2 linked regions of the Homo sapiens genome follow. The protein of the gene in region 2 interacts with the protein of the main gene of each other region in a pairwise test. Each region holds a gene or a part of one and is shown on either strand. Other genes may lie near its edges.

The links.
Region 1: the proteins of ANKRD10 (region 2) and ZIC1 interact in binary tests that used the Homo sapiens proteins (3 or more experiments, as listed by UniProt).

Annotation. Positions count from the first base shown.
Region 1 is NC_000003.12:147,412,365-147,414,791, forward strand, and holds part of ZIC1 (zinc finger protein ZIC 1), read left to right. Parts: intron 1-153; coding exon 154-317; intron 318-989; coding exon 990-1,187; 3' UTR 1,188-2,427. UniProt on the Homo sapiens protein: Acts as a transcriptional activator. Involved in neurogenesis. Plays important roles in the early stage of organogenesis of the CNS, as well as during dorsal spinal cord development and maturation of the cerebellum.
Region 2 is NC_000013.11:110,908,570-110,912,069, reverse strand, and holds part of ANKRD10 (ankyrin repeat domain-containing protein 10), read left to right. Parts: intron 1-1,299; coding exon 1,300-1,452; intron 1,453-3,500.

The DNA of each region.
Region 1 (2,427 bases), on a different chromosome or scaffold from region 2:
GAATTTATTGACGTTCCGGGTTTTTAAGCTTGCAAAGTGCTAATCCTGGGCTGCTGGCTTTTTGTTTTATTTTTTTTCTATTTGTTTAGTTTTTGAAAAACGGCCGCGGTATTTTTTTCTAATTAGACCCCTCTCATTCTACTTTGGCACCAGGGGAGAAGCCCTTCAAGTGCGAGTTTGAGGGCTGTGACCGGCGCTTCGCTAACAGCAGCGACCGCAAGAAGCACATGCACGTGCACACGAGCGACAAGCCCTATCTTTGCAAGATGTGCGACAAGTCCTACACGCATCCCAGTTCGCTGCGCAAACACATGAAGGTAATCGCCGCACTCTCGTCGCCCCCTTTGAGGCAGGAGCTCTCTTGGCTCTCGGCTTGGGGTCGGGCGGCGAGTGGCAGACAGGCGGTGGCGGGAGCCAGAGGAAGCGGGAAGGCAAAGGTTCCACTCAGTGGAACTGGGCAGAGAAGGTAGGGCGGGACCTGGAAAAGGGGATGGGAGTGTCCAAGGCCGTTTTAAATTTTTGGTTTAATAATAAAAGTTAAAAGAGGCGAGTATGAGCAAAGGCCGCCACTGAATTTGGCCCAGAGCTAGGGCTTTTGCAGGGGGTTGACGCTGCGGAAACTGCTGCCCTTGCAGCTGCCAGTGAGACGCAAGAATTGGACTCCTGCGCCCAGGCCTGAGCTCTGGCTCACCTAAACATGGACAAGCAAAGTTCAGGGAAAGAAAGTGCAGTCTCTGGCCTCATATCCAGTCTCCCTCTTCCCAGACCTATTTTTCTTTTGTGAGTCTTGGGGACCCTGACTTTCCCAGGAGCACGGTTTCTGCAGGCCTGTGCAGAGAAACCAAGCCCAAAGTCCCGCTGATCGGGCCTCACCTGTGTTCAGGGGGCTCCAAGGGGTCCAGGAGGAAGGGCACTCGCGGCCTTCGCCTCTCTAGTCGGCCGCCGCACTGGCTCTTTATGTCCGTAAAAACGCGACTTTATTCCTGCAGGTCCACGAATCCTCCTCGCAGGGCTCGCAGCCTTCGCCGGCCGCCAGCTCTGGCTACGAATCCTCCACGCCTCCCACCATCGTGTCTCCCTCCACAGACAACCCGACCACAAGCTCCTTATCGCCCTCCTCCTCCGCAGTCCACCACACAGCCGGCCACAGTGCGCTCTCTTCCAATTTTAACGAATGGTACGTTTAAAATCAGAAACAAAACATCGAACAAAACCCTATTTAAGAGACTGATCACACACGTATACACAACATTACTGAAAGAACCCTGCGAATCAAAACAACCCCCACACAGACCCCGCAATCCTTTTTTAAAAAATCTGCCAATAGACCCAGGACGAGTAAGAGAGGAAGCATCAACCTTTTAAAAATTTCCTTTCGCTTTCATTATTTTTCTTTTTTTGGCAAAGGCTTGGTACCCAAGGTGCGGTAGGGGGTCGAGGGGGAGGAGGCCACCTGACCAAATGCCGCCAACCCCGAGGGCCAGTTTCTTGTCGAATTGGTACGGGCTCTCTGGGGCTTCGGCTTCTTTTTTTCTTTGTTTTCTTGTAAATACAGAATTATTAGCTTAAAACTGTACTGTTGAATTCTGTAAATAGTTATATCTCGGTTGGAGCGGGTGGGTGGGATTGTGGCGTTGTGGTCTTTGCATTGGGGGAGGGGGGAGGGACCGGATGGGCGGGGGGAGGGGGAGGGGGAGGGGTGGGCGGCCGAAAGCCAACTGTTTGTACTGAATGGCAAGAATGTTCTAGTAAATGTGTACCAAAATGTGAATTACTTTGTACGATTACAGTCTCCACGTCGACCTAACCCAATATTATTGGTATTAATGTGCTTTTTTTGTATAAAGTGCAAACATTTCGTCCCAAAGTCTAAGTACTTTAGTGCAGTAAAATGTTGTTTCATGTCCTGTCAAGAATTCGTATAGTACGAGCCTGGATCTGCGTGTCAAACTGTTCCATTTGTTTATGTAAAGTGATATTAAAAAAGATATAAACTATAACTGTCCGTTACTTTTGGCAAAAGATACAACCACATAATGTATATAATTCCTAGTTTCCATATTTATCCGCATGTAAAGGGCCGGTTTATCCATGTTACAGCTCTTCAATATTTATGGCTAGAAGAACTCGTATGTACACTTTAGTTTCCAGAACTGTTTGGTAACCTTTCGTACCTTATTAAAGATTCTTAAATCTCCGTGATTGTGGTAGGAATTTCTTCTTCACCCACCAGCAACCTGCTGCCTCTTCTGCCAGTCTTAAAGGGTCTCCAGAAAAGCTCTCCAGTCTCCCTTGCCTTCCCTTTCTGTCACTGCAGGTCGTATAAACGTGATAAATGAATGCTACCCTGCTGGCTCTCCGAGAGAGTGTAATTAGTATTTATATCAAAATTTATGAAACAAATTTTCGGCCGCAGTATAATTTAAA
Region 2 (3,500 bases):
AGAGGCTATCATGGTATTGGTGCTTGGCCACAAAGTCTTAACTTGCCATGTTAGTCACCCACTAGGTGCATTGCTCAGTTATGCTGTAGGCTTTTTTCCCCCATAGGGTTTTGAAAAGAGTAAAAAAATGTGGAGAATGGGGCCTCTATTGATTATTCAATGAGTATTCAGTGCTGGCTTGTGTAAAAGTGCACAGTTGTGCACACTATAGAAAATAGTCTTTGACTATGACGAGTTTACTATGGCTACACAAAGTTTGTGGGGTTTTTTGTTGTTGTTTTTTGTTTTTTTGAGACAGGGTCTTGCTCTGTTGCCCACGCTGGAGTGCAGCGGCGTGATCTCTGCTCACTGCAACCTCCACCTCCTAGGTTCAAGTGATTCTCCTGTCTCAGCCTTCTGAGTAGCTGGGATTCTAGGTATGCACTACCACACCCAGGTAATTTTTGTAATTTTGTATTTTTGAAACCCCAGTATGGGGTTTCGCCGTGTTGGCCAGGCTGGTCTTGAACCCCTGACCTCAGGTGATCCACCCGCCTTGGCCTCCCAAAGTGCTGGAATTACAGGCATGAGGCACTGCGCCTGGCATTACACAAAGTGGTGGTGGTGGTGTTGGTGTTTGAGATGGAGACTTGCTCTGTTGCCCAGGTTGGAGTGCAGTGGCGTGATCTCAGCCCTCTGCAACCTCCGCCTTCTGGGTTCAAGCAATTCTCCTGCCTCAGCCTCCCAAGTAGCTGGGATTACAGGTGCCCGCCACCACGCCCGGCTAATTTTTTTGTATTTTTAGTAGAGATGGGGTTTCACCATGTTGGCCAGGCTGGTTTCGAATTCCTGACCTCAAGTGATCCACCCGCCTTGGCCTCCCAAAGTGCTAGGATTACAGGCATGAGCCACTGCGCCCGGCCTACACAAAGTTTTTTAACCCACCAATCCCTTTAACGTTTTTGTTTAGAATAGTCTGTGCAACAAACAGTTTTGATAGAAGTCTTGGAACAGCGCAGTCCAATATTTTCTGATTTTGGCTTATTCAATTGTAGGGAAACAAATATTTAAATCTGTATAGTGTTAGTCGTCTTTTTGCATTTTTCTATTTCTATCTACCGTCTTTTTCATAAGGACAAGGGAATATGTTATCTTAAATGTCCTTTAAAATTTGCATGGCATTGGGAAAGAGTGACTTAATCTGTTAAAAAACTGGTAACAATGCCATTTGTCACCATTATAGAATTTCGATTATTCATGTAATATTGAATAGTGTACTGACATGTCTGCGTGTTTTCATTACCCCTCTTGTTTTCGAAGTTGGAGTGCTTAGTGCAGTTGGTGAGAGCGGGAGCCACACTCAACGTCTCCACCACACGGTACGCGCAGACGCCAGCCCACATTGCAGCCTTTGGGGGACATCCTCAGTGCCTGGTCTGGCTGATTCAAGCAGGAGCCAACATTAACAAACCGGTAAGAGTGCTGGTGATGGACTTGGTTTGCTTTTGCTTTTTCTTTTTGCAGTTATAATTATACACGGTATTGCTTTAAATCGAGGCCTTAATTAGAGTTTGATATCTTTACCTGAGGGCAGACTGGAATTTATGTTTCTTCAGTTGTTTGTGGAGGATAGTAGGCCCTTTCCATAGGAATGCTTTCTGTTCATAGAGTGCTTTCACCTGTTGTGTGATAAACTGATCCAGGGTGATGTGCCCAAGGTTATAGCTGGTAATTAAAGGAGCCTGGCCTTGAGCCCAGGTTTCCTGGCTTTCTACTCATAGCTGCCTTAGCCTCATTTCCACAGATAATTATGAAAACATTTTCATCCTGGGAAAAGCATGGCTATTAAGTCAGCTCCAAAGTGAGCTTCAGATACAAGTTGATGCCTTGATGCAGATAAGTGCTAAGTATCATTTACTAAGTGGGAAGAGTAAGTGACTTGAGGACTTGGTATTTAAACATACTGACAGGAACATAATCGTGCCAGATTTTTCTTCATGGTGTGTTTTCAGTATCATTTCACCTAAACCAAACACACACGCATTCAGATTGTTAGGTACTTAGTTGTGTGAGACAAGCAGCATCTAATAACCATTAGGTTGTCTGACTGGGAGCAGTCCCTAGACTCAGCGTCCTTTGCTGCAGATGGATTAGTCCTTAGACTAATTGATAATTTTCATCTCTTAAGACCTGGGCATGGGCTCTGGGAGCTGGTTTTTATGCCTTTTTTACTCCTATCTTTAAATGCTTTATAGTCATCAAGGTCTTGGATGCAAAGTCGTCTTTCTACTTTTCTTTCCCAAGATTCAGTCCTTCATGATAACCAGGCATAAGGTTGTTGCTAGTCCCTCTTCTAAAAACCCAGCTACCCACCTGAGCAGTAAGTAATTGAGAAAGAAGGTGTTTTTAGCCATGATTTAAAACAAGGATCAATGGGAAAGTGGGGTAAGTTATAAGGCAGTTTGTCCCCTTAAAAGATGTGAAGTAGAAAAGAAAATGGAAGGTGGCCAAGAGTTGAGGCCTGTTTGTTACTAAACTGAAATGTGGGATATGGGACAAGTTTTAAGGTTGTGCTGCCACTTCTCTCCTTCCATCTCCACACGTGTGCCTTTACATAATGTATATTTCTCTGCTGCTCTGTTGCTTGTCTTCATAAATTCGAGAGTTATGAATTACCTACTCAATACCCTTATGTGCTGGGCAGCGCCTTGTGTTTTTCCTTCTTCCCTACCCCTGTCCCCTGGTAGAAAGGGCAGTGTGGGCTTGATTCCTTGGGCAAGTCATTAACTTTGTGGCTCAATCTCTTTATCAGTAAAATACAGTTAATAATTCCATGAATGGCAGTAATTAATAGTATGGAATTTAAGTATATCATTTTTGTAGGTTAATTTTCATCAAATTGTTACATAGCATCTTATTTAGAGAGGACTAGAGAAATTGTCTAACACTGCTTTCCAGACCTTTTTAAATCAAGAAGCCCCCTTTTCAAAGTGTCTTATGGCAGTTCAGTATTTTCAGTAGATAAAGGGAGTGAGGCAGAAAGTGTGCTGCTGGGTCTCCCACCTTCCTCTCAGATGCCTCTAGATAACACCTCCTGGAAACTTCTACCGCACTCTGCTTCTTCCCAGGCAGGATCCTAAAATCTTTTTCTTTTCAGCCCTCCCTGTATTTGAAGTATCCGGGTAGACATTTCCAAGTCCTCACATGTGCCTAGTGCATATCATTTGGCATTGTAAAGCATCCTGGAATTTCTCCTTAGTGTATCTTAGGTAGTTGTGGTCTGCTGGCATGTGGAGTTTACATCCGAATCTGAGGCATCATCTCACTCTATTATGTAGTGGGTGAATTTCAACACCTCTTGTTATGGGCACCCAGTGACTCTAGAGGACACAATAGCCCTTTTGTTAGCTCCCCACCCCGCCTACCTGCTGACTCATCTCCAGGTAGACAGTTTCTCTCATTTCTCATATAAACTCAGGATGCCAAATCCAATCCAGGTTTTTCTCCTTTGTTGTGTCCAT